2 separate regions of the Homo sapiens genome follow, and region 2 is linked to region 1. A link means that fine-mapping ties the variant in region 1 to the expression of a gene that starts in the linked region. Tissue or cell type: tibial artery. Region 1 holds a variant in brackets; the other region holds the start of a gene. All regions are shown on one strand. Distances are between the middles of the regions.

The links. PIP is the estimated chance that this variant, and not a neighbour inherited with it, causes the effect.
Region 2: STX8 starts here. The variant in region 1 is fine-mapped to the expression of STX8 in tibial artery (GTEx, PIP 0.98).

Annotation. Positions count from the first base shown.
Region 1 is chr17:9,331,699-9,334,381 of GRCh38, reverse strand. All of the region lies in intron 7 of STX8 (syntaxin 8), which reads left to right. Among named protein-coding and RNA genes, the nearest start is that of STX8, 240 kb to the left of the region's middle. The variant T/C (reference allele first, on the strand shown) is at 1,530.
Region 2 is chr17:9,574,412-9,577,094 of GRCh38, reverse strand. It overlaps STX8 (syntaxin 8), which reads left to right and starts at 1,275. Exons shown (of 8, transcript NM_004853.3): 1 at 1,275-1,303. The coding sequence starts at 1,287. CFAP52 (cilia and flagella associated protein 52) reads right to left here and starts at 453. Exons shown (of 14, transcript NM_145054.5): 1 at 330-453. The coding sequence starts at 399. RefSeq lists enhancers at 191-320, 1,113-1,292.

The DNA.
Region 1 (2,683 bases):
TTCCAGAAAAAATTTCCTTCTTGCCTGGGGACTAGACTACTAACATTAACCACAAGATTATAAGTTATGCTTTAGGAGTCATGTAGCTGGAGACTACAAGATTCTGGCCCTCCCTAAACTGCTCCTACAGTCAGGACTTGAGATGGTTTCCAGACTCTACCCTTGATGGATCAACCGGCACCACCCAGATTGAGAAACCAGCCCATCTGATCTTGTGACTGCCCCCCACCCCCACACCCCCCCGCACCCAGGAACTGACTCAGTGCAAGAAGACAGGGACGACCCATGATTTCACCTTCGACCCAACCAATCAGCACTCCCCAGCTCACTGCCCCTCCCCTCCCACCAAATTGTTTTTTAAAACCTTGATCCCCAAATGTTCAGGGAGACTGGCTTGAGTAATAATAAAACTCCAGTCTCCTGCTCAGCCGGTTCTGTGATAATTACTGTTTCTCTATTGCCATTCCCCTGTCTAGAGAAATCGGCTCTGTCTAGGCAGCAGGTAAGGTGAACCCACTGGGCAGTTACAAATTGGGTAAGGTGAACCCATTGAGCAGTTAGGCAGTCTGAAAAATTTCTATGTCTTCCATGTTTTCCAACAAAATGACTGTGTAACTTTTAAAAAACATGTGTGTGTTATATCTATTTACATGACCTCCTGCTTGAAGCAAGTGTTTATTATAAGTTATTTTAGGCCAGGCGCCGTGGCTCACGCCTGTAATCCGAGCACTTTGGGAGGCCAAGGCGGGCGGATCACAAGGTCAGGAGATCCAGACCATCCTGGCTAACACAGTGAAACCCCATCTCTACTAAAAAAATACAAAATATTAGCTGGGCGTGGTGGCGGGCGCCTATAGTCCCAGCTACTCGGGAGGCTGAGGCAGGAGAATGGCGTGAACCCGGGAGGCGGAGCTTGCAGTGAGCCGAGATCATGCCACTGCACTCCAGCCTGGGTGACAGAGCAAGACTCTGTTTCAAAAAAAATAAAATAAGTTATTTTAATTTGAAAGCTAGAGGAACAGAAAACCAAATACCATGTGTTCTCACTTATAAGTGGGAGATACACATTGAATACACATGGACATAAAGATGGGAACAAAAGACATTGGGGACTATTGTGGGGGAGAGAGGGAGGGGAGCAAAGGCTGAAAAACCACCTATTGGATACTGTGCTCACTACCTCGCTGAGGGGATCATTCGTACCTTAAACCTCAGTGTCACACAATATACCCATGTGACAAATCTGTATATGTACCTCCTGAATCTAAAAATTGAGATTATTATTTTTTAATCCCAAAAGAAAGCACAGTTAAAAAAGAATTGAAAGCTGGAAGCGACAGGAAACTTGGACGCATATCTTCATTCTCGGTAGGGGAATACTCTGCTTTAAGAAGTATTGTGTCTCGTTCTCATCTTGAAGCCCTTGGGCGTGGCAGCTGAAAGCTTTTAAAGATGGGATGCATTTCCCCAAAGGTAGCCAAAAATATCATTACCTCCCTAGGCAAATACGTCTTGGGTGCTAGGCACTG[T/C]GTTGGGTGAGGTAGGATACAATGGTGGTCCCTGCCCTCAGGGAGCTTATATTGCAGTTGGGGGAGGGAATCGAGATAGTAAACAGTAAGCAGGCACACATAAATGTAATAATTACCAATTGTGTTACAGTCTAGACAGCCAGAAGGCCCTCTGGATGTAGAGACTCTGAAAAAGGATCCAGTTCTGCATTACTGATTTTATTAACATCGTTAAGATTGTCACTAGACAATGGTTTGAATAACATAAGAATGTTTAAGCATTTATGACAGATGACTGAAACATAGCACCATTAGCTCCATTTGGATGAATTATAAAATAGTCTCCAGTTCCTTGGAACCTTGGGAGAAGTGAAATGTCATTACAGATCTAGGTCTCTAGAAGAAGAAAGCCGCTATTTTTGTCCCTTCCTTTTGTGAATCTTGTCTTCCTTACTTGGTGGATGATGTTGGTTAAGTTAACCAAAGGCAGCACGTCGATCTGATGATTTGTTAACTCCGTCCGCATTGTTCATTGGTGTTTTGGATGAGGGGGAAATGATGAGATCTCTGCCTCTGAGTCATTCTCCCTGACTCCAACTCAACCCTCGTTCCAATTTGCCCATTTCCCATTATGGAGCAGAAAAGACTGCTTAAGGCCTGGTTTATTTACCTAATAAACTGGCTCTTGTATTGCCTGGGAAATGCTAAAATTTTTCAGCTAAGAAATCCTAGTAACAAGCAAACAGAGGTCCAGCAGTCAGGACTGAAGAAACAACAAAATGAAGGTCAGCTAATATCGCCATTATTCTCCTTCCTGGTGGCCATGACAGCGCTGGGGTTTATTTGAAGATCCCAGACTCGGAATCATTGCCCGCATTGTTAGCCGCCCAAGTATTTTAGGCTGTGCCAACAGTTTCAGATATTAATGTATTCTACAGATCCGTGAATGAAGAATTCCTCTGCACTTTTTTCCCTTTTAATTTTTTTTTTCCTTTCCATACACTTTGTTTGCAGTGTCTTTGTCTGCCAGACGTTGCTGGGCATTTCTAATGAGAAAGCAAAGAATTGCAGAAGGAAAAAGGCAGAGAGGGGGGAGGGAGAGAGAGAACAGGCGGAGGAAAAACAGGGCGTGTTTAGCACTTTAACAGTAAGGTGACATTTTTACAAGCTAGTCA
Region 2 (2,683 bases), 240 kb before region 1:
GAAGGGCTGACCTAGTGGGAGAAGGGTTACAACCACCCGTACTCATCCGGCCCGCCTGGGGAAGAGGCATTTGGTCCCTTTTAGGTGCTGGCGCTTGTCCGAGCTGGTAAAAACCATCTCACTCCCTGAGGCTTGGATCGAGGAAGTGACTCTCCAAGGCCTTGGGGCAGGTCAGGCTGTGCGGGTCCTCCTGTGCGTGTCCCTGGCCAGGGCTCCTGCCGTTGTCCCACACTGCCTTTCAGGTGTCCCCGGTGTCTCACTATTCCTGTTTGCACTACACGTCCTCCGAATTCCTAAACCAGCCAGCCCAAAGATGCTGGAGGCCTCACCATTGAAGCCGATCACGGCGTCAAGTTCCAGCTCCGCCACTTGGGCCTCCGGCGAAATTTTGTTATCCATCCTTGGGAGGTTCTGATTACTTTGCTCTCCTCCCTAGTGGCTGCAGCGTCTTCTGGTCGTTATGGTAACGGACGAGCGCATGCGCTCCAGCTCCACGCCCGCGCAGAAACCCAGCCTGCCGAGTTCGAGTTCATTAGCATTCTTGGAAATGAAGGGGTATGGGGACTGGAAGAGAGATGGGGTGGGACTCCTCTTCTTTTTTTTTGTGCTATTTCTCTGGAAATTTAGGGGATGGCACTAACTGCGCAGAACTAATTCCTCCATCCCCTTGTGTAGAGTCTGTGACTTCTTAGTAACTCTAAAATCAAGCACCGAATGAATGGCATTTAAAAAATATGTAATCAGGCGTACAGGACTGATAGGAAGGCTGCTATAAAAAATATATATAATTGATACTTCTTTGGGCCCCTGTTTGGAGCAGTGTGAAAAAAATTTTAAAGATTTTTTAAAAAGCGTTGAGGTATAATTTACATATCATAAAGTTAACTTAAAGTAGGTTGTAGTGAGTTTACGCAGCGTGCAAGTCTCACCGCAATCTAGTGTTTTGTTTATTGTTTTGTTTTTGAAGCAGGATAAATTTTTAAGTAACTGCTACAGAGAGGTCTTGCAGCGCTCCCACCTTCCTGGGAAAATGCTTTGTTTCTATTTAACAATTTTAACTGAGCTTAGCAGTTCGCGTCTCTTGGTGGGAGTAGATTGCTCCAGTGTACTGTCCGCAGGGGAGCGCTTTGCTTTCTCTGATTATAGTTCTGAGGCCCTAGCTACTCACTTTGCAAACTCCAGGCTCCGGTCGCGCACGGGACGAACTGCGGGGAGTGAGCCGCGCGGGCCGCCGTAGTCAGCTGCTAAGAGCAGGAAGAGTCCGAGCGGCGGGCGGAGTCTGCAGGATGGCACCGGACCCCTGGTGAGTCCCGGGTGAGGGCGGCGGTGCGTGGAGGGACCTTCGGGGAGGCCGGGCTTCCGGAGAGCAGGCAATCACTTCGCATTGCCGCTGGTGGCCTTTCGGGATGAGGGGAGGGGCAGCGAGACCTTTCCTTTACTGAGGGGGCTCAGCCACATCCCGCCACACTTGGTCCTTGCAAGGGTGGCCCGGGAAGGAGACCAGGTGGTCCGCTGGAGAGCTGAGGACTTACGCCAAATCTCTGAATATTCCTTTAGCTTTTCTGGGCTGCATCTCGTTGCGGGGATTTCCCGCCCATCCTGGTTTTGGAGCTAGCTGGCTGGTGCAGGCTTCCCTGGACTCCTATAAAAGTGAAGTCGAAATAACGTTTTTGTAGCATGTCAGTCCATCCCGGTAAACCCCCTTATTTCACAGGTGGAGAAACCGAGGTTCAGAATCCATGGCCACCAGCCAGTTAGTAACCAGCTGGGGCTAAGACCTAGATCTTGGGGGCCCTTCCAGATACAGGAACCTGGGAGGGAAATTGTGCACTTGTTTATAAGGCATTTTGCACTTTCTTGAGTTAATATCATGAAGTCTTTTCCTTTAGCAGTAGCTTCTGCAGTAAAACAATAGCTGATAAGGGTGATTTATTTAGCAGTTAATCCCAAGGACTGCATGATGAAAGATGCAACTTTTGATCCCAAGGAACATATTGTTTGATCCCAAGGAACGTATTGTTATTGAACATAGACTTGACCTTTCTGCTTAATAATTAAAAACATATTACAGCTCTATAACGTTCTTGTTGGAATATGTGTCTTATGTTGTTATTTCTAATATAGTTTATAATTGTTTAAGTTGCCCACATCCTGGATATTAGAAGAATGGATTCCAAGAACAAAGTTGAGTTACCTGGAATCTAGGTTATTTGGGCCAATTATTTAATTTAGCATTTACTTTTTTAAACCTAATTTTAGGCCGGACGCGGTGGTGGCTCACGCCTGTAATCCCAGTACTTTGGGAGGCCGAGGCAGGCAGATCACCTGAGGTCGGGAGGTCGAGACCAGCCTGACCAACATGGAGAAACCCCGTCTCTACTAAAAATACAAAATTAGCCGGGCATGGTAGTACATGCCTGTAATCCCAGCTACTCGGGAGACTGAGGCAGGAGAATCGCTTGAACCCGGGAGGTGTAGGTTGTGGTGAGCTGAGATCGTGCCATTGCACTCCAGCCTGGGCAACACGAGCGAAACTCCGTCTCAAAAAAAAATAAAAAACCCCAAAATCCCTAATTTTAACAGTTATATACACCCCTTGATAGAGAATATTCAATTTAGAGAATATTGAAAATTTGCAAAAAGGAAAATAAATAGCATCTTTAACTCTATAATTTGGAAATAG